Homo sapiens: one gene and its partners. The protein of the gene in region 2 purifies or fractionates together with the protein of the main gene of each other region. This does not show direct contact. Each region holds a gene or a part of one and is shown on either strand. Other genes may lie near its edges.

Region 1 (2,866 bases), on a different chromosome or scaffold from region 2:
GGAGAATCCACTGCTGGTACCACTGGAGGAAAAGGCAGTACTGCAGGAAGAACAAGCCAACCTGTGGTTCTCAAAGGTAAGGAGAGGCCGGGGGCAAGACTGCGGGGAGATGAGTCTTCCTTGGGAGAAGGGCAGCTGATGTTCTCCTATCACAGGGCAGCTTTGCTGGGATCGAGGACGATGCCGATGAGGCCCTGGAGATCAGTCAGGCCCAGCTGTTATTTGAGAACCGGCGGAAGGGACGGCAGCAGCAGCAGAAGCAGCAGCTGCCACAGACACCCCCTTCCTGTTTGAAGACTGAGATAATGTCTCCCCTGTACCAAGATGAAGCCCCTAAGGGAACAGAGGCTTCTTCGGGGACAGAAGCTGCCACTGGCCTTGAAGGGGAAGAAAAGGATGGCATCTCAGACAGTGATAGCAGTACTAGCAGTGAGGAAGAAGAGAGGTGAGTAGTTGCAGCTGAGAGAAGGGATGGAAAGGAAGCGGTGGCTTGAACCATTTCTCTAAATTGGGGGTTCTTAATCTTGGCTGCACATGGGGAGGGTTAAAAATACTGTACTGACGATCCTGATTTAACTGGTCTGGGGTACAGCCTGCATGGCAGGATTTTTGCAAATTCCGTGGGAGTGCGGTCTGAGTAGTACAGAGTGGTGGAATCACTCAGAGTCCTCCCCTCTTCACAGCTGGGAACCCCTCCGTGGTAAGAAGCGAAGCCGTGGGCCTAAGTCAGATGATGACGGGTTTGAGATAGTGCCTATTGAGGACCCAGGTGAGAGCTCTGTATGCAGTGGAATGAGAAAAGACCACTGGAAGTCTCAGTATTGGGAATTGAGCTTTGACCTTTCTCCTTCCCTCTCTAGCGAAACATCGGATACTGGACCCCGAAGGCCTTGCTCTAGGTGCTGTTATTGCCTCTTCCAAAAAGGCCAAGAGAGACCTCATAGATAACTCCTTCAACCGGTAAAGGGGCCATAAACTCATCAAGAGTGACCCAGGGTCTGGTGGGTAAATGGGTAATTTTTTGTTTTTGAGATGGAGTCTCGCTCTGTTGCCCAGGCTGGAGTGCAATGGCACGATCTTGGCTCACTGCAGCCTGATTCTCCTTGAATCGCTTGAGTCAGCCTTCTGAGTAGCTGGGATTACAGGTGCCAACCACCACGCCCAGCTAATTTTTGTATTTTTAGTAGAGATGGGGTTTCACCATGTTGGCCAGGCTGGTCAAACTCCTGACCTCAGGTGATCTGCCCACCTCAGCCTCCCAAAGTGCAGGGATTACAGGCGTGAGCCACCGTGCCCAGTCTGGTAATTTCTTTAGAAAGCCTGGAATGTTGGATATTAGACAGATGTCCTTTCCACTCAGGTACACATTTAATGAGGATGAGGGGGAGCTTCCGGAGTGGTTTGTGCAAGAGGAAAAGCAGCACCGGATACGACAGTTGCCTGTTGGTAAGAAGGAGGTGGAGCATTACCGGAAACGCTGGCGGGAAATCAATGCACGTCCCATCAAGAAGGTGGCTGAGGCTAAGGCTAGAAAGAAAAGGAGGGTAAGTGATGGGGCCTCCAGAGATTGGGTGGGGTGGGGGTGGGGGGATGGGGAAGAGGTCACCTGACAGGTTCCTTTGCAGATGCTGAAGAGGCTGGAGCAGACCAGGAAGAAGGCAGAAGCCGTGGTGAACACAGTGGACATCTCAGAACGAGAGAAAGTGGCACAGCTGCGAAGGTAATGGGAGGACACCACAAAGGTACACAGGGCTAAAAGTGCAGCAGAAAGCAAGCCTCTAACCTCTTCTCTTCCCCCCTGTAGTCTCTACAAGAAGGCTGGGCTTGGCAAGGAGAAACGCCATGTCACCTACGTTGTAGCCAAAAAAGGTGTGGGCCGCAAAGTGCGCCGGCCAGCTGGAGTCAGAGGTCATTTCAAGGTGGTGGACTCAAGGATGAAGAAGGACCAAAGAGCACAGCAACGTAAGGAACAAAAGAAAAAACACAAACGGAAGTAAGCAGAGCTGCCAGGCTCCCAGGAGAGCATGGGGACTAGGAGGAAGGGTGTGGCATGGCTCAGTCTGGCCCCCTTGATTACCGGCCTAGCCCCTGCTCACATCACAGCTGTCTGAAGAACAGTGAGGTGGAGTGCCTAGAACTCCCGTGGTGGTCCTGAGCAGAGAGGAGGATGTCCTCCTGCCTGCCTGAAGGTCTCCCATGAAAACACTGCTGAACTGTGTTGACACTCATGACCCTTTTTTTAAACCGTTAAAGGGAAGTTCGGTGTTGGAGCGATACTCAATGTAGTCAGTCTACACCTGGACGTGTGGGCCACTTAAGCCCTCCCCACCCCCATCCTATTCCTGAATAAAACCAGGATAATGGAAGAGTTGTCTTTTCTGACAGTTTTAATAAGCACTTCCCTATCTGTCCCTACACTGTGTGCGGCACTATTCTTAATATGTACCAATTCATAGACAGAAATGACAAACGATCCACAGGTCCCGGTAGTAAAACATTTACTAGAGAGCAAGCAGAAAGGAATGCACATCTTAAAGAAACCTTCACAAAGTCACAAAAGTCAAAGTTTGTATATTTCTTTTCCTTTTTATAAACGATAAACAAAAATCATCAAAATCATTTCAGCAAAAGACTTTTCTATCATTGGGGCAAGTTAAAAAAAATACAATGAGATAGAAGACACTTTAAAAGCTGTTGTTGGGTTTCTTGTTTAATTTTAAATTTAGCAATACCATCTCAAACCTGGAGCAATCCTGGAACAGTTACCAGGATCACCTTTTCCCTTCAATCCTTGTGGCTTCTGGGAATCTTCAGAGCCTGGGTCTGAAAGGTGTTTCCTACATGTCTCAGGGCTGGATGCAAACCT
Region 2 (3,500 bases):
TTCATTCGTTTACATTTTCTAAAATCATGCTAGATTCCATGTGACAGAATAGGTAAAAATCTCTTCCTCCAGTGATCTCTCATTGGAGATGACACATGACATCAACCTGTACTACCACACAATAGCCCAGGATGGTGCATTAATTTGATAGTGAAAGTCATAGAGGGTTTTAAAGTGTTATATCTGTAAGTTATGTTAGAATGATTACGTAAAACTGTGTAGGGGCACATGGAAAATTAGCCAGGCATGTTAGCGGGCGCCTATAGTCCCAGCTACTCGGGAGGCTGAGGCAGGAGAATGGTGTGAACCCAGGAGGCGGAACTTGCAGTGAGCCGAGATCACGCCACTGCACTCCAGCCTGGGCAACAGAGCAAGACTCCATCTTAAAAAAAAAAAGGGCTACAGCGATGTTCCATGTTGTTCTCTAGAGTGGGGTGTTTACACTTCAAGGGTATCCGCTGAAGTGTAGGAAGAAAATATTCAAAACTTCCACATATCTCTTTTTCCTTAAAAAATTTAACATCATTACTACTTTTCTTGTACACTGACATTGGTGCCTTGACTCTGTCTATAAAGTAAATAGTTGTGTGTCAGATACAGTGAGCCAGATATCTCAAGGGAGGAATACGGCAGATAGGGCTTGCAAGTGGTGGTCTCACTTGTTTATTTAGACGACTATTTAACTGTTTATGTTTGCTTAGTTAAGCGGATTCATAGATGACACTGAATATTCTGCCAAAGATAGAGAGTAGTTATAAAAGTATGCTGGTTATCTAATGGGTTAGTATTTTTAAAAGTTGTAGAACCAGGCTGGCAAGGTGGCTCATGCCTGTAATCCCAGCACTTTGAGAGGTCGAGGTGGGCAGATCACCCGACGTCAGGAGATCAAGACCAGCCTGACAAACGTCGTGAAACCCCGTCTCTACTAAAAACACAAAAAATTAGCCGGGCAGAGTGGTGTATGCCTGTAATCCCAGTTACTCAGGAGGCTGAGGCACAAGAATTGCTTGAACCCAGGAGGTGGAGGTTGCAGTGAGCCGAGATGGCGCCACTGCACTCCAGCCTGGGCGACAGAGCAAAAGCTGTAGAACCTAAAGATGATCCATGCACTTTTCACAAAAAGAAAAATATTCCAAATTTGCCAATCTTTTTATGTAACCCAGTAGACATTTTTAAAAATAAATACGCTTAATCTGTGTCTTCCAAACAAAAGCAACATTTTAATAGTTTGAGGAAGACAATTGTTTTTTGAAAAAAAAAAAACTTGTTCTGTGAAGGTTGTGAAAAGAAAACTGATTATATCTACATATGGCACTGCTGAAAACATGTCTCCTATAAAAATTGCAATCACACACTTTAAAAATGTGGAAACAGAATATTGTAATGCATTTAAAACTCTTCCAAATCTACATTTTTCAGAGGGTTACAAACTCAATTGGTGAAAATAGAAAAAATTAATTTCTTCTGAAAGGTTTGTAGGAACACCTGTTTGACAACTGGAGATGAAAACTCACTAACTGGACTTGAAAAAAAGCCGCTCCATAACTAATGGAGCATAATGAAAAATTAAAGTACTTGAGACCACCTATCAACAATGCACTTCTCTACAATCCCTCAGTTATGTATGACAGCCCTTCAAGACAAAATCATACTCAGCTAAGAAGCAGACTTTTGTTTCACTACATCACAATTAGTTATAATACACATTGTATTATTAGTGGAAGTGTGTATGTATAATAACATTTATAGCCTGTAATCCCAGCACTTTGGGAGGCTAAGGCGGGTGAATCACCTCAGGTTGGGAGTTTGAGACCAGCCTGGCCAATGTGGTGAAACCCCATCTCTACTAAAAATACAAAAATTAGCCGGGTGTGGTGGTGCATGCCTGGAATCCCAGCTACTTGGGAGGCTGAGGCACAAGAATTGCTTGAATCCAGGAGACAGAGGTTGCAGTGAGCCAAAACTGCACCACTGCATTCCAGCCTGAGAAACAGAATGAACCTTTGTCTCAAAATAAAATATTTATAAATAACATTGGGGAATACATGTTCAAAAATTTTACTGAGGTGAGCACAACTTTGCAGACCAATGATACAGATTTTAGATACATAACTGTGATTAATGGGGACAGAAGCATCAAAAGAAAAGCTATCCCTATCAAAATACCAATGACAAATATAAATATAAAAAAAAGAAAAATACCAATGACATTCTTCACAGAAATAGAAAAAAAAATCCTAAAATTGTTATGAAACCACAAAAGATCTAGGATAGCTAAAGCTATCCCAAACAAAACAGCAAAACAAACAAAAAAAAACAACAAAAAAAACACAAAACAAACCTAGAGGAATCACATTACCTAACTTCAAATTATACTATGGACCTATAGCAACCACAACACTATAGTAATGGCATAAGAACAGACACAGAGACCAATGGAACAGAATAGAGAACCCAGAAACAATTCCACACACGTACAGTGAACTCATTTTCGACAAACGTGCCACGAACATACACTAGGGAAAAGACAGTCTCTTCAATAAATGGTGCTGGAAAAACTTGATCTCCATATGCAGAAGAATGAAACTAGACCCCTATCTTGTGCTATATACAAAAATCAAACCAAAATGGATTAAAAAACTAAGACCTCCAACTACAAAACTACAAGAAAACACTGAGAAAACTCCAGGTCATAGATCTGGGCAAAATTTCTTAATATCCCACAAGCAAAGGTAACCAAAGCAAAAATGGACAAATGGGAGCACATCAAGTTAAAAAGCTTCTGCACAGCAAAGGAAACAACAAAGTGAAGAGACAATCCACTGACTGGGCAAACTATCCACCTGACAAGGGATTAATAACCAGAATACAGGCCAGCGCGGTGGCTCACGTCTGTAATCCCAGCACTCTGGGAGGCTGAGGCAGGTAGATCACCTGAGGTCAGGAGTTCGAGACCAGCCTGGCCAACATGGCTAAACCCCATCTCTACTAAAAATACAAAACAAACAGCCAGGCATGGTGGTGCACACCTGGCATCCCAGCTACTTGGGAGGCTGAGGCACAAGAATCGCTTGAACCTGGGAGGCAGAGGTTGCAGTGAGCTGGGATTGCCCCATAGCACTCCAGCCTGGGTGACAGAATGAGACTCCATCTCAAAAACAAAACAAAACAAAATCCAGACTATATAAGGAGCTCAAACAACTCTATAGGAAAAAATTCTAATTATTGGATTAAAAAGTGAATAAAAGGGCCAGACATGGTGGCTCACACCTGTAATCCCAGCACTTTGGGAGGCTGAAGTGGTTGGATTGCTTGAGCCCAGGAGTTCAAGACCAGCATGGGCAACATAGTGAAGCCTCGTCTCTACAAAATATATAAAAATTAGCCAGGCATGGTGGCATGCACCTGTAGTCCCAGCTACTTGGGAGGCTGAGGCATGAGAATCACTTGAATCCAGGAAGCAGAGGTTGCAGTGAGCCAAGATCGCACCACTGCACTCC
Region 3 (3,318 bases), on a different chromosome or scaffold from region 2:
ACATTACTCCCAAATGGCAAGTGGTGAACTTAACCTAAAAGAGATATATACCTTACATTTATTCCCAAATCTAAGGTAAGGTCACCTGTTAAGCCCTCACAAATGTACATTTTCTTCTCTAACAACTCAAACTCAAAGTGGTTTTTTAGTTCGTAATTAGCTCAAAATAGGATTCCTACCCTACCACAACACTTATTCATTCATTCATTCTTTGTACCTAGACTGGCACGAAATGGGAGCTCAATACATATTTGCTAAGTAAATGAAGGATGTGAGTCATGAAAAGAAGCAGTGCTCTACTACATAAAACAACCTTTAACTGTTACAGTGCCTAGATCTTTTCTCCTCAAATAGATAAGTCTCTGTTATATAATTTTTAAAAAACCATTGGGTAATTACAAGAGCACAAATCACATGATATTCAATAGAAATGCTAACAGACTAGTTTTCAAACATTTTTGTGAAATGCTTTAAAATTTTTAAGCCAGAAAGCTGCTGGCACGTGCTTCTTTTCCATGACATATTCCATAGCAATTAATTTAAAAGCTAATGGTCCTGCTCTGAAAAAAATAGTTGATTCCAAGCTGGGGAAGAGGAAACATCTTGTTAGCTATAAAACATGAATGCACTCAAAGAATGAGGAGAATTGTCAAAATGACATGACAGTCTGCCTGAAGGAACTCCCACAGGCCAAATATGGGCCACTTAGAACTTCAAAATAAATAATGACAATAAAGAATTATAACCCAATGTATACCATAAGAATCCATGAATACACACAGATGTAATATGAATAAAGGAATAAATCTTGAAATTGATGGAAAAGGGAAAGCTCTTTCTTACATGAGAAAATCAACTAAAAAATGTAGAAGAAATGATGGAATTAGAAAAACCACCATTTGGCAACAATCACAACAATAGTAGTAACTGATTCAGGCAAGACTCTAATGAAAACCAAAACCAGTAGGTACAAGTTTGAGGAGTAATAGGCTTTTTACTGAATCTCTATGTATCTCCCCCAAAATACGTACTGATTATAAGGAAAACAAAATAGTAATCTTCCAGTGGAGAAACCTGACAGACATCACCTTAATCAAGTGATCAAAGTTAACATCACCAGCAAGGTGACATCATGTGCTTCCCGATATGATGCATGAGAAGGATACGCCATCATTTCTGAGACATCCCTGCCAAAGGTGCCTAGCCAAAATCTAATGAGGAAGGTATCAGACAAACCCAAATTGAAGAACGTTCTATACAATAACTTGACCTATAGTCTTCAAAACTATCAATGTCACGTAAAAGAAAGATGAGAAACTGTCCAGATTAAAGGAGCCTGAAGAAATATGAAGGACTTTGTGTTGCTATGGACGTAATCAGAATAACTGGTGAGGTCTAAATAAGGTTTATAGATTATATAATAGTATTACATCAATGTTAATTTCCTGACTGATAGATAACCATACTGTGTTTATTTAAGAGAATGTTCTTATTTTTAGGTTACACACACTTAAGTATACTTAGAAGGAAAAAGCATTATGTCTTCAATACATTGAGACAAGGATAAAGTAAATGTAAAATGCTAGCAGAATATACAAGAGTTCTTCATATTATTCCTTGAAGTTTTTGGTAAGTCTGAAGTTATGTCAAAATAAAAAATTTTTTTAAAAAATACTAATGCCTCTAAATATCTACTAGTAATTATTTTCCAAAAGTTACTCCATACAAATATTCATACCTGTTCATTATAAATTTAGCTTGGCGCTTCTGTTTGATTTCTTCAACTCTCTTCATCGCATCAACTACAAAAAAATTCATGAGTTAGCAAATGTATGCACATTCAAGCGGTATGATCAACAACTGCATTAACAAACACTTCTTTATTATTCTGATTTAGAAATGAATTTACATGAAAAAAATCATTACAAAAACAATCCCTACTCAAAAAGCTGAAGAAGGTGTATACTCCTGGCCATCATGACTCTCAACATTCTCTTTCACAAGTATCATTTCTCTAATTTTTATCTGACAAAAGTCTCTACTGCTGTTAAATTTTCCTTCCACTTTAAACCAATCCAATGCTTTTCAAATTTTACTATAAAGAGAACTTGGACTACTGACAACTAATCCCATTCTTAACTTGTAATTTCCATGAATAAAGACAGCATCTTTCTGGTTATGAACACTTAAAAGTGCCTGGGATATGGTCAGCACATGATATTAGCAGAATGAACCAAACAATCAATACTACTAAGTTCTCAACCACAAAAATCCAACTGTTTTAGAAAATGCCTACAGGAGTGTTGGCTAAAAGGGGGCTGAGTCCAACTATGCTCTAAAATTTCTATCAGTACTATCCAATGAAAGACAAACCACATATGAAATTTTAAATTTTCTAGTAGCCGTATTTTTTAAAGTAAAAACGAACAGGAGGAAATTTAATGATACATTTTATTTAACCCAAATTTCCAAAATACTGTCACTCAACATGCAATCTATATAAAATTACTAGTGAAACATTTTATCCTTGTTTTCATATTAAGTCTTCAAAATCCAGCATTCATTTCACATTTACAGCACAACGCAATTTAGACTGGCTCAGTAGCTCAGACACTTCTGATCTAGTCTAGCTCTTTAAAGTGTAGTCTGTAGATCTAAAGAATAATAAGATATTTATATAGTCTTAAAGTATCTCTCAAAAGTATACTTATTAATTAAAAAGAGTAAAACAGTAACTCTTCAGTGGAAAAACCTGGCAGACACCACCTTAACCTAATGATCAAAGTTAACACTGCTAGTAATGGAACTAATGGACAGCTTGTGTCTCCTGACAAAACACACTGAAAAAACTCAGCATCAAATCTCTGGTGCTCTTGCCAAATGTGCATTATCCAAACCTAATCTGAAGGAAACACCAAACAATCCAGTTAAGAAATTTTATACCAAACGCCTGGCCCATATTGTTCTAAACTGTCAATATCATGAAATATAAGGACAAACTCAGGAAATGTTCCAGATTACAAGAGATTAAAGAGACATGACATGTACTATTCTTACAAATTTTGCTATAAAGGATATTACTGGGACAATTGGAGAAATATGAATAGGACTAAGATTAGGTAATAATAGTCTATCAATGTTAATTTCTTGATTTTAATAATTGCAGTGTGGTTATGTGAGAATGCTCTTATTTCTGGAAATACATATTAAACTAGGGACCAAGAAGTATTTTGCATGCTTAAACAGTTCAGAAAAATATACACTAAAGGGAGAAAGGGAGAAAGAAGAGAGACAAAGAGAAAAAATTAATTTAACAAA
Region 4 (3,500 bases), on a different chromosome or scaffold from region 2:
AAGGATGAACCTTGAAAATCTTAAGCTGAATGAAATAATCCAGACACAAAGGGACAAATACTGTCTGATTTCACTTACCTGAGATATCTAGCTAGGCAAATTCACAGAGACAGAAATAGATTATAGATTACTTAGGGCTAGGGGAAGGGGGGTTATAGGAAATTATTAGTGGTTGCAGAGCTTCTGTTTTCAATGATGTCAGTGAGTAGCCTCCTGATAGGAGTTTTGGAAACAGATAGTGGTGATGGTTGTACAATGTTGTGAATGTAAGTAATGCCACTGAATTGTATACTTAAGATTGGGTAAAATGGCAGCCTTTGTTTTATATGTGTATATATAACCACAATAAAAATAATTTTAAAAAAGTTAGGAGATATTTAATACAGATTTCCTCTCCATCTCCCTTTAAAAAAGACCCAAAACACTTATAAGTTCACATTGTTCTATGCCTCGCCTTTTCACTTAATTTTGAAGCTTAGAGATATGTTTTATATAGGCCCACATATGCTGCCCTTTTTGTTTTTTGTTTTCAGACGGAGTCTTGCTCTGTCACTGAGGCTGGAGTGCAGTGGCGCAATCTCGGCTCACTGCAAGCTCTGCCTCCTGGGTTCACCCCATTCTCCTGCCTCAGCCTCCTGAGTAGCTGGGACTACAGGTGCCTGCCACCGCACCTGGGTAATTTTTTGTATTTTTAGTAGAGATGGGATTTCACCGTGTTAGCCAGGATGGTCTCGATCTCCTGACCTCGTGATCCGCCTGCCTTGGCCTCCCAAAGTGCTGGGATTACAGGTGTGAGCCACTGCACTCGGCCCCCTTTTTGTTTTTTTTAATGGCTTCATGTTCTTCCATCATATGAGTAGATTGTTGAGGGACATTGAGGTTGTTTACAATCATTTGTCATCCAGCCTGGGCAGCATGGCAAAACCCCATCTCTACTAAAAATCAAAAAATTAGCCAGACATGGTGGTGCATGCCTATAGTCCAACTACTTGAGAGGCTGAGGTAGGAGGATCACCTGAGCCTGGGGAGGTCAAGGTTGCAGTGAGCTAAGATTCTGCCACTGAACTGCAGCCTGGGCGGCAGAATGAGACCCCGACTCAAACCACCACCACCAACAACAAAAAACCCAAAAAATAATCATTTGTCATTACAAACAAGTGATGTAGGGAATAACCTTGCACATATGCCCTTTTACAATTAAGCAAGTGTATATTTGGCTTGCAGGATTAATTCCTAAAAGTGGAATAGTGGGTCAGAGGATATTTGTATTTCTAGTTTTGTTAGAGGTTGCAAAATTTCCCTCCTAGAGGGTATACCAGCAGTTTTAGAAATGCTGTCTATATTTGATGGGACAAAATAAGGGTGTATATAACTTAAATTTCTGATAAAAATAGAGTTATAACTGTATTGGTGGGTAAAGTAGTAAAGTGACCTAAATCTTCATCCTTCATAGCAGGAGGTTTGTAATGAGTATCTTAAGTGGATTGAGAAATAGTCAAAAAAGCATGTTATTTAGTGAGATGGAGGTAATCAGTGGAAGAAGTGCTTGCGGCTTTTCTTTTCTTTTTTTTTTTTGAGGCAGGGTCTCGCTCTGTCGCCCAGGCTGGAGTGCAGTGGCGCGATCTCAGCTCACTGCAGCCTCCCCTTCCTAAGTTCAAGCAATTCTCTCACCTCAGCCTCCCAAGTAGCTGGGATTACAGGTGCACCACCATGCCCAGCTAATTTTTGTATTTTTAGTAGTCGGGGTTTCACCATGTTGGCCATGCTGATCCCAAACTCCTGACCTCAGGTGATCCACCCACCTCAGCCTCCCAAAGTGCTGAGACTACAGGCACGAGCTACTGCACTCGGCCAAGAAGTGCTTGCCGCTTTTCATTTTAATCTGCTAACTTACCAATTGAAAACGTGCACTTCTTATCGTAAGCTTAAAAAAAGATAAAATCATCCCTGAAATCTTATGCTTTCTTCTCATCCCAGTTGCCAAAGCTCTGCAGGAATTTGACTTGGCCTTAAGAGGAAAGAAGAAAAGGAAGAAGTTTATGAAGGATGCCAAAAAAAAGGGGGAGATGACAGTGAGTGGCCTCCCTTTTGGAGTTTGGGCCCACTCGGTGGGGTGGGTCAGAGTGGCCTGGTGTGTTCCACACTCACACCTCCCCACTCCCCCTAGGCAGAGGAAAGGTCTCAGTTTGAAATCCTCAAGGCGCAGATGTTTGCTGAACGGCTAGCGAAGAGGAATCGCAGAGCCAAGCGGGCCCGAGCAATGCCCGAGGAGGAGCCAGTGAGAGGTCCTGGTAGGTGAATGGGGAGCCCAAAGGAGCTTGTACAAGGTTTTCCCTGAAACCTGTGCTTTGGGTCAGGGAGAAAATCTGAGGGATGATGACAGTAGCCCACATTATTTGAGTAATTAGTATGTACCAATGTGTACAGCTATCCCTCCACGGTCTAAGGGGCGCAGTGACCTTGTGGTTGTTGAGAACTAGGATTTGAACGCCAGCTTTTCTGACTCCGGAGCCTAAGGCCTCACCAGCTGCTACTTGGAGGAGCTGGTGAGGACAGAATGAAAATAGTCTTTGGATGCCAGAGTATCCACTGAACTTGGAATCATTACCTTGAACTTAAGGGGATTTAGGAGCTTGGGCCAAAGACAACCATATGTAACCCATTCTCTCTGTGCACAGCCAAGAAGCAAAAGCAGGGGAAGAAATCTGTATTTGATGAAGAACTCACCAACACAAGCAAGAAGGCCCTGAAACAGTATCGAGCTGGGTAGGATTTTAAGTCATCATGGAGCCCTTGGTATTCTTTTTTTTTTTTTTTTTTTTTTTGAGACGGAGTCTCGCTCTGTCGCCCAGGGTGGAGTGCAGTGGTGCATCTTAGCTCACTGCAAGCTCCACCTCCTGGGTTCAAGCAATTCTCCTGCCTCAGTCTCCCAAGAAGCTGGGACTATAGGCGCACGCCACCATGCCCAACTAATTTTTGTATTTTTAGTAGAGATGGGGTTTCACCATGTTTGCCAGGATGGTCTCGATCTCTTGACCTCCTGATCCACCCGCCTCAGCCTCCCAAAGTGCTGGGATTACAGGCTTGAGCCACCGTGCCCGGCGAGCCCTTGGTATTCTAATGGAAGCTATGAGTCTTCTGCCTCCTTCCCCATTTCCAGTTTTTGCACACCTATAGCTTTATACTATGTAAATTCAAGGGTACCTGTCTGTTCTCCACCCCCCACCCCTCTCAGAGCCACCTGAGGATCCCAAGGTGAGAACAGGAGAGGGGTGTTCAGTTAGCACTGTTCCTGCCTTGGAGGTGAAATAGTACATTGTTGGGTTCAGAAATGGAGCTTTCCTTCAGGGGAGTGATAACTCTTTCATCTCAAGTTCCATCCTGCAGAACCCCAGAGAATCCTGGCTTGCTCTTAGGAATATGTTGTCCCACACCATTTTCCCCAGCCCAAGGTTGGGGCAGGGGCAGACTAAGCTTCCCAAGTAGTGGTATATACCTAA
Region 5 (3,022 bases), on a different chromosome or scaffold from region 2:
AAAAAAAAAACACTGGCTGGGCACAGTGGCTCATGCCTGTAATCCCAGCACTTTGGGAGGCCGAGGCAGGCCGATCACTCGAGGTCAGGAGTTCGAGACCAGCCTGGCCAACATGGTGAAACCCCGTCACTACTAAAAATACAAAAATTAGCTGGGCGTGGTGGCATGTGCCTGTATTCCCAGCTACTCGGGAGTCTGAGGCAGGAGAAGTGCTTGAACCAGCAGGCAGAGGTTTCAGTGACCTGAGATCACGCCACCGCATTCCAGCCTGGGCCACAGAGCAAGACTCTGTCTTAAAAAAAAAAAAAAAAAAAAATTAACTCTCCTGGTTTTACTCCTACATCTCTGGGTGAACCTTCTCCTCTTCCATCACCTTCACTGCTTCATTTTCCTTTACCCATCCATGACATGCTCCTCAGTTCTATTCTGAGCCATTTTCTCTTCTCATTATCTTACCCTGAATATCTCATCTATTCTGACTTTAATTACCACCTCTAGGCTGCTGATTCCCAGACCCCCAGCACAGATTTCACGCATGTCCCACTTCCTAAAATCCAACACTTTGAATGGCATCACCAGCCTACCCACAGTTGAGCAACCTGGAACTTACTTCAGATTCCTCTCTTACCAACCTCAACATCCCACCAATTCTACCTAATGAAGTTCTCCTGTCTGCCTACTTCTTCCATCATGACTAGTCAACAGTGCCCTCATCTTGTGCCCTAGTACCTGGGTTTCTATAACACCCCTGTTCTCATCTATCCCACTCAACTGGACCCTGTCATTCCTTATCTCTCCCTAGGTGAATAAGTACACTGGCTATATCTCAAATGACAAGCTCCGGGAATACAAAGATAAACATGGCTTGAGAAAACAGCAGCCAAATGCACAAAGGAATCACAATGCAATATTTAGAAGCTGAAGTAGCACTCTTCACATAGTACTTTGAGAGTACAGATGAAGAACTGATTTTGCTTTGGGAGTAGAATAGGAAACAACTAGGCTGTTCGGAAAGATGAGCAAACTGCCAGTCCGATGAATATCCAGCAGAAAGAACAGTACGTGTAGAGGCACTGTGTAGTGCCTGCCTAATGATTCACAGCCCAGCCTCCAAACATGCCCTCTGGACTACAGCCTGTTTCAAAACCTCCATCCCCTTATTAGAGGCATCCAACTGGCTCAGGGCATAGAACCTATGATCTCCCAATGGGTACTGTCAGGTATTCCTGGAAACAAGTACAAGAGGCCATATCTTTATACCTGGGCACATGGCAGATACCTTTTGGGGGAGGCCTAGAATCTATCATTCAAACTCACCTTCCCTCAGCACCTTGCCTATAGCTTTCCCAGGACATGCTGATCTGAGTCCACTGCAAGGCAGAGATAGTGGACAGACTCTTCCGCCAATGAACAGCCCAATGCCCCCAAGCCCACATGGCATCAACAAGTTGTTTATGAACAGAGACCCAGCTCCCTCACTACCCCTCCAAGGACAGAAGCTCAGAATCTATTAAAAGTCATTAAATAGCCTATGAAGCAGGCCTGTTGAAAGGTCTAGCCTCTCCCAGAGGCTTCCTTAGTCAACAAATCCATTCTTTACCCCTCAGCCTCCAACCAGCCTAGGGAAGATCTTCAAAAAACAATAAGGCTTACAACACATAATAGTCATAGCTAGTTTACTGAGCACCTCCTATGTTCCCAGCCCTGGCTACAGATTTCTCCAGTTAACCCACACAACCACCCTGCAAGACAAAAATTCTACCATTTTCCAAATGAGGAATGTGATATACAGAGATTAAATGACTTTAAGTGCCTCTGGGTAGCAGGCCAAGAATTAAATCCAGGTCTACCTGATTCCAAAATCTGTGCTCTCAGCTATATACATCCCAAAGTCCCACAGGACAATAGGTGTTGGGAGTGGCTTGATGCTATATGGTTCCAAAAATGGAGATGAGGGGAGAGGGGAAAGATAAACCACTAGAAATGCTCGGTATGGGGACAACCAAACAGTCTCAAGTTGGTGGCTCAGACTGATGTCTTGAGCCAAGATGTTGGTGGACAACCAGTTGCCTCAGAGTCAAACAGCAACAGCTGCCTGTCTGCAACCTTGAAGGCCTGGGCAAACTGAAGCTGAAGGAGCAGAAGCTATGGGTGAGCAGAGGAAGCTGATCTGTAGACAGATCAGATGACAGCAGAGTGGAGATGGCAGGACAGGAAGGCCATGTGGCTTCTTAGTTGGAAAGAAGAGCAAAACCTAAAGATGCCTTGAATTCCAAACCATCTAGTTTTCATAACACCTGAAGTGTCATGAGACAGATATCCCCATGTTCTCACAATAAACTCTTTATTGTTTAGCTAGCCCCAGTGACTTTATGCATCTTATAACCAAGAAGCCTTCAGTAGAGCAAGTCTGAGCCAGAGGTTTTATCACACTTTGTCCTCAGGGTCCACCAGGAACCAGGTCTTGGCTCACAGCCAGGCTGGAAACAGTCTTCACAGTTCTGAGCCTGGAGTTTGAGATCTGCCTCCCCTTTCAAGGAAGATCCAGAGGTCACCTGCGCTTGTAGAGACATGGCTGAAGCTGCAGGCCTGAAAGCTGAGCCTTGGGCCCTACCAGAGGGGGCCCAGTCTTTTGGAAATCAAACAAGAAGAAATGGCTGTTGGTCAGGTCCTAGGGGCAGAAAAGACCCAGTGAGAACCAAATCCTCATCCCAACTCCTTAAAACACCTCCCTCTATGTACTGCCTCTGCTCACAAAGCTTCCCAGGGCTCCCACTTCCGTTGGGGAGCAAAATGTCTGTTCCTGTGCCTAAAGCCTCCTTCCTGAACACCAGTACCCTGAATAGGGCCACATGAGACAAAAACAGGTACAGATGTCTTGGGGCCCTCACCTTGGAGACAATCTTGAAGCCTAGCTTGGTCACAGCCCGCAGAAAGGTTCGAACATCCTCAAAGCGGCTGCTGACCTCAGCCACTTTCAGGAGACCCCTGAGAAAGACAGAAAGTTCTGTGTAAGTGCACA
Region 6 (2,587 bases), on a different chromosome or scaffold from region 2:
TAGTCTTGCTCATTTTTCTAAGGATGTTTGGATTTTTGATTTAAGAGAGTTTTATTAACCTTTTTTATTATATACAGAATGTATTTTGGCAGTAATCTTAGCAAGTTAATCTGTAAGTCTGTTTATAAAACAGGAATGACTTATACATCAGAGTGGTTGTGAAAATTAAGGGAAAGATTTTACTGTTACTGGACCATAGGCATTTCCCATCCTGCTTCTTTTAAGTTATTCATGAAAAAAATTAAAAACTATGTTCTTTGATACTTTACCCTAACTCACCTTTTTTTTTTTTTCCCCATCTTAGGTTTCCCAAACCACTCCTTATGATCCAGTGAATATTCAAGAGAGCTACATTTGAAGCCTGTACAAAAGCTTATCCCTGTAACACATGTGCCATAATATACAAACTTCTACTTTCGTCAGTCCTTAACATCTACCTCTCTGAATTTTCATGAATTTCTATTTCACAAGGGTAATTGTTTTATATACACTGGCAGCAGCATACAATAAAACTTAGTATGAAACTTTTATTTTGCATTATTATTGGTATTAAATACATGGTATATTAATCTGTTCTGAACACCTGAAGGGGTTAAGTTTGTACAGTTTTTTCCACCTACTCTTCTCACATGACTTTATGCCATACATCTGGCAAGACTGCTAGGGAATTAAAGGTAAACTGTGAACCTTTATTCTTTTAAGGTCAGGAGGAGGCTGTTAAGTTCTACGGGTTTCCATCCATGAGTTACTTATAGGGTTAACTTTGTTTCAGTGCCTGAATGGAGTACTACAGCACCATGTAATGAGGTAAAAAAGAGCTCCCCACAACGTGGGCACAAAAAACCAAAAACCTCAAAATCAGGAAGCAAAGATTAGCTTCAGTAATTTGCAACTTTGCTTTAAACCCTGGTAGATCATTTTGCTTTAAATTTTTTACCCTTCTGAAGGCTTAAGAGAATGTTAAAACATCCAGAAACCTGGCCTCCATTTAAGCTATTAAAACTGTGCCAGACACTGGGAATCCAAGGTTAATCTGGTATAAAAATCAAGGGTTAGCCAATATTTACCAACCATTTTATTCCTCTCATGTGTTCTATGCAAATAGGAAAGTTAATCTGAATCTTGATTCCAACTTAATTATTCACAGTTACCCAAAAACAAGAGAACTAAGTTTAAGGAAACCTAAGCCATCAAAATAACTTTTATTTGTATTTTCTACATAAACACACAGTGGCAATTCATGGCATTTGGTAATTCGTCCAGACGTGAAAGGTTTATGAAATCAGCAAATGCCATTTTGAAAAGAGTATTCTGTCAAAAATAATTTACCAAAGTTCAAGATAGGCCTGTTCAGCAAAATCCAATATCATTCTCTCAGTACTTTATAAATGGAATTTTCTTCTACTTGTATCCATTTCCCGGGGCTGAAAGTGGAAAGCAAGGGAGTGGAGGAAGAAAACAAAACAAAAATATAATTAACAATTCAGGTAAGACAGTAAAAGTTAACGTCCCTAGATCTTCATAAGTAACACTAGTGCTGAAAAACCGGGTTTGTGCGAGACCCCGAATAGTCAGTCTTCGGTCTAATATAAAAGATGTTGGCAGTTACTGTGTGTGTGTGATTTTAAAGTAAAATGTTACTAAGTGAAGTACTGCTTATACTAGATAGAAAAGGATGTTTTAGGCCATGCACGGTGGCTCACACCTGTAATCCCAGCACTTTGGGAGGCTGAGGCAGGCAGATCATGAGGTCAGGAGATCAAGACCATCCTGGCTAACACGGGGAAACCCCTTCTCTACTAAAAATAGAAAAGATTAGCCGGTGTGGTGGTGCACACTTGTAATCCCAGCTACTCGGGAGGCTGAGGCAGGAGAATAGCTTGAACCCGGGAGGTGGAGGTTGCAGTGAGTCGAGATGGCGCCCCTGCACTCCAGCCTGGGCAACAAAGCTGAGACTCATCTCAAAAAAAACAAAACAACAACAACAAAAAAGTTTTCATTTATGATTTAAGATGATGATCTCCAAACTTCTAAGAAAACTTATCAATAGTTCTCAAGAAACATGTAGTAGAGTCACATATAACACAGGCTTATAAGCAGATTGCTGCTGGGTCCCACCCCCTAAATTGCTGATCGAGTAGGTCTGTGGGCCAAAGAATTTTCATTCCTAATAGGTTCCTAGGTAATGGTGCTGGTCTCGCTTTGAGAACCACTAATGTTTATACTTCAGATGAGCCAAGGTTAATCACCAGACCCAGATATTGTATCTTTTTTTTTTTTTTTTTTAGTTCAAGGGTATATGTGCAGGATGTACAGGTTTGTTACATAGGTAAACGTGCTATAGTGGTTTGCTGCACAGATCATTTCATCACCTAGGTATTAAGCCCAGCATCCATTAGCTATTCCTGATGCTCTCTCTCCTCCCACCCTCTTATCCCATACTTTAAAAATGACTTAGTCTTTTTAAACAATAAGCACATACCTTATGGACCCATTCATACTCTCCATATTTAGAATCAAAGGTTCCTTTCTGAAGAGACCTTAATTTTAAGGTAAAACGTGGTCCAAGTTCCTGAATTCCCACTTT
Region 7 (3,500 bases), on a different chromosome or scaffold from region 2:
CGGGAGGCTGAGGCAGGAGAATTGCTTGAACCCGGGAGGCAGAGGTTGCAGTGAGCCGAGATCGCGCCACTGCACTCCAGCCTGGACGATGGAGTGAGATTCAGTCTCAAAAAAAAAAAAAAAAAAAAAAATACAACTGCCTGGCGCTGACGCCCAGAAATGATTTCATTGGCATGGGGTGCAACCTGGGCATCAGAATTTGTTTAAAACCTCCCAGATGATTCTAATATGTAGCAAAATTTGGGGACCACTGATCTAAGACATTAGATAACTGAGCAGGAAAATATAAAACTTTAACTCCTGTCTGCGGCAATTTAGTTCTGTAAAGGAACAGAATGGTTATGGCATCCTTCTGACGCTGTATTCATCGGTTCTAACTAATCACGCAGGCTTTGTCTTCAGTATATTCAATCACATATTGTGGGTAAACCTGATCTTTCTGAAAGATGACAAAAACGGAGGGATTCGATCTGGTATCCACACAGCTGTCGAACTGTGGAGGAGGGCTCGTGTACGTTATATTTCCTTCAGTAAACTTTCCAACCAGAACTTGGGCTACAAACATAACGACGTTTTTGGCATCATACGGGCAATTTTTGTGGGAATAGATGGCATCTTTTGCAAAGTAAATTCCTAGAAAGAATCAGAAAGAAAAGTTAAGAAATATTATAAAAGAAGGTATACAGTTTATAAGATTTGTTATATACAGTCAGATGGGTGTGGACTAAGCATATGTCAATAATACCTTACTGATATTTATAAACTTTCCTTTGCACTTAAAAACATGTTAATGATGCAGGCGAACTTAAATACAGTATATAACCCTATAGAAATGACTGAGGAATATTTGCTACAGTGCAGAGCTCATGCTGATAGTGTGAGCCATTGGGTGCAATGACCAAATGACAATGTCACAGTGGCCCAATTCATGCAATTCACCCAGTGTGAGCTGAATGAGCAAACTTGGAACTGATGAGTCAGTTGATGCTTCGTCCTCAACTCTAAAACAACCTCAGATAACGATTGCTGCTTCCATACACAGCAGACCAACAATTTCCTGCCAAGTTAAAATTTTTATTTTTATCATTGTCAAGTGCTACTCTGGGCAGGTGCAGTGGCTCATGTCTGTAATCCCAGCATTATGGGAGGTTGAGGCGGGTGGATCACATGAGCCCAGGAATTTGAGACCAGCCTGGGCAACATGGGGAGACTCCATCTCTACAAAAAATTTAAAAATTAGCCGGGCATGGTGGCGTGCACTTGTAATCTCAGCTACTCAGGAAGCTGAGGCAGGATTGATTGAGCCCAGGAAGTTGAGGCTGCAGTAAGCTAGGATCATACCACTGCACTCCAGCCTGGGCAACAGAGTGAGATTCTGTATCAAAAAATACTAATAATATTTTCTAAGAAAGCTACTCTGTCGTTTTAAAGACCATGAGTAGATATTGCAACTCCTATTTCCATGCAAGAATCAATAAGTAAAATGAATTGTTTTACTTGTGGTAACAAATGTTTAATATACTTCCCATCTACTTTGTTTTTGTTCTTTTTATCATTTTATAGTTAGATGTTTGAATTCCAGAAACATTGCTTATCCTGAATAGGTCAGATACTAGATATTCTGTGCAAATGATGTTCTACTATATTTAAAGTAAAATATGGAAGTCTACCTATACTGACCTACGACGTCCAATCCCACTCCCCTTCCCAAAACAGTTTATGGCTGGCGGGAATTCTTTCACACCTGTTTCTATGCATTCACATACATATATGTGCATATGGTGGTTTATGGTGGTTTACTTGTTCATAAATAGGATCATAATATATGAACTGTTCTACAACTTTTTTTTCCACTTTAGTCCTAGAAATCTTGCTATGTCAGTACATCCAACTCTCTCTCTCTCCTTTTTTTTTTTTTTTTTTCGTTGTTGTTGTTGTTGCTGCTGTTTTTGAGACAGGGTCTCTGTCACCCAGGCTGGGGTGCAGTGGTGCAATCTTGGCTCACTGCAGCCTTGATATCCTGGGCTCAAGCAATCTTCCCACCTCAGCCTCCCATTCTAATCGGTGCGAGGCAACAGCTCATTGTGGTTTTAATTTGCGTTTGCTTGATGATTAGCGATGTTGAGCATTTTTTCATGAACTCATTGGCCATTTGTATTTCTTCTTTTGAGAAATGTCTATTCAAGTCTTTTGCCCATTTTTGAAACTTTTATTTGCATGTATTTTACGCTGAATTTATTCCCGTGCTGTAAGTTTTTGCTTCTTCAGTATCTTCTAGGATAGCTTTTTCTTCTGTGCACCTCCTCTTCTGGTTTAGGAACACGGTGTGCTTCTTCAGGAAGATTGTCTCTATGTGGCAGGGGGAGCTTAGGCATGAGTTAATCCAACCATGAGCTCTGGAAGTCTGGTGGCACATCTTGGGTGCTTTGTGCGCCTGAATATCCTCGACGACCAGAGAATCTACAGCTCAACCCTTACGTTCAGCATTACTCTCTGCATTTTTAAGTGTGTACAGCAAGAATTCAATTCTTTTGGGGTCACAAACTGCGTGCCCAGCCCCACTGTTTGGTCTGGGCACTCCTACCAACTCCACCCTCGTAACGTTGGAATGGTACACATTGTTTCCATACAGTGACATCTTTCAGACATTTGCTGGCTTTTCATATAGGCGTACTCTTGATGGCCTGGGCAGTTTCATGGGTGTCCTTAGAGTGAACATGAAGATTTGAACCTCTTTATTTGCATGATTTCATGGAGTTTTCTGGGTCAAGTGAATAGTGAACCATTTTCACAGATCACCGCAGGCCACTTATGGGAACAGCTTGCACATTTTAAAATTGAGTTATTTGTTCTCTTGCTGTTGAATTGTTTAAGTTCCTTACATATTTTGGATATTAATCCCATATCAGATGTATGGCTTGCAAATATTTTCTCCCACTCTGTGGGTTTGTCTGTTCACTTTGTTAATTGTTTCCTTTACTGTGGAGAAGCTTTTTAGTTTGATGCTATCTCATTTGTCCATTTTTGTTTTTGTTGCATCAGTTTTTTTATATCACACTTATATAATCTGGAATCTATATTTTCTTTTTTTAAAATTCCCTTTATTGTGTTAAGAAAGTTCATTTCTATTCCTACATTTCTGAGTGCTTTATTTTTTTCTTTTTTGAGACAGAGTTTTCCTCTGTCACTGAGGCTGGAGTGCAGTGGCAGGATCTCAGCTCACTGCAGCCTCCCCTTCTTGTGATCAATCAACTCTCATGCCTCAGCCTCTCGAGTAGCTAGGACTACAGGCATGTGCCACCACGCCCAGCTAACTTTGTATTTTTATTAGAGATGGGGGGGTTTCACCATGTTGGTCAGGCTGGTCTCAAACTCCTGACCTCAGGTGATTCACTCACCTCGGCCTCCCAAAGTGCTGGGATTACAGGAATGAGCCACAGTGCCTAGCCTAACATTTCATTTTTTAGGATAAATATTTGTTTGAATTCTAACATAGGATA

Evidence for each region.
Region 1: the proteins of MAK16 (region 2) and FTSJ3 purify together in Homo sapiens (affinity purification with mass spectrometry; 3 studies listed by BioGRID and IntAct, with this or other methods). This does not show direct contact.
Region 3: the proteins of MAK16 (region 2) and RSL24D1 purify together in Homo sapiens (affinity purification with mass spectrometry; 2 studies listed by BioGRID and IntAct, with this or other methods). This does not show direct contact.
Region 4: the proteins of MAK16 (region 2) and DDX27 purify together in Homo sapiens (affinity purification with mass spectrometry; 2 studies listed by BioGRID and IntAct, with this or other methods). This does not show direct contact.
Region 5: the proteins of MAK16 (region 2) and RRP8 purify together in Homo sapiens (affinity purification with mass spectrometry; 2 studies listed by BioGRID and IntAct, with this or other methods). This does not show direct contact.
Region 6: the proteins of MAK16 (region 2) and RPF1 purify together in Homo sapiens (affinity purification with mass spectrometry; 2 studies listed by BioGRID and IntAct, with this or other methods). This does not show direct contact.
Region 7: the proteins of MAK16 (region 2) and ZC3HAV1 purify together in Homo sapiens (affinity purification with mass spectrometry; 2 studies listed by BioGRID and IntAct, with this or other methods). This does not show direct contact.

What each region holds. Positions count from the first base shown.
Region 1 is NC_000017.11:63,818,933-63,821,798, reverse strand, and holds the end of FTSJ3 (pre-rRNA 2'-O-ribose RNA methyltransferase FTSJ3), read left to right. Parts: coding exon 1-76; intron 77-155; coding exon 156-445; intron 446-683; coding exon 684-769; intron 770-860; coding exon 861-960; intron 961-1,360; coding exon 1,361-1,544; intron 1,545-1,625; coding exon 1,626-1,720; intron 1,721-1,804; coding exon 1,805-1,997; 3' UTR 1,998-2,366; downstream 2,367-2,866.
Region 2 is NC_000008.11:33,491,682-33,495,181, reverse strand, and holds part of MAK16 (protein MAK16 homolog), read right to left. Parts: intron 1-3,500.
Region 3 is NC_000015.10:55,183,624-55,186,941, forward strand, and holds part of RSL24D1 (probable ribosome biogenesis protein RLP24), read right to left. Parts: intron 1,803-3,318; coding exon 1,739-1,802; intron 1-1,738. UniProt on the Homo sapiens protein: Involved in the biogenesis of the 60S ribosomal subunit. Ensures the docking of GTPBP4/NOG1 to pre-60S particles.
Region 4 is NC_000020.11:49,239,916-49,243,415, forward strand, and holds part of DDX27 (probable ATP-dependent RNA helicase DDX27), read left to right. Parts: intron 1-1,977; coding exon 1,978-2,072; intron 2,073-2,167; coding exon 2,168-2,291; intron 2,292-2,678; coding exon 2,679-2,766; intron 2,767-3,500. UniProt on the Homo sapiens protein: Probable ATP-dependent RNA helicase. Component of the nucleolar ribosomal RNA (rRNA) processing machinery that regulates 3' end formation of ribosomal 47S rRNA.
Region 5 is NC_000011.10:6,597,595-6,600,616, forward strand, and holds part of RRP8 (ribosomal RNA-processing protein 8), read right to left. Parts: intron 2,989-3,022; coding exon 2,892-2,988; intron 2,672-2,891; coding exon 2,552-2,671; 3' UTR 1-2,551.
Region 6 is NC_000001.11:84,496,266-84,498,852, reverse strand, and holds the end of RPF1 (ribosome production factor 1), read right to left. Parts: coding exon 2,483-2,587; intron 1,425-2,482; coding exon 1,383-1,424; 3' UTR 501-1,382; downstream 1-500.
Region 7 is NC_000007.14:139,047,221-139,050,720, forward strand, and holds part of ZC3HAV1 (zinc finger CCCH-type antiviral protein 1), read right to left. Parts: intron 634-3,500; coding exon 374-633; 3' UTR 1-373.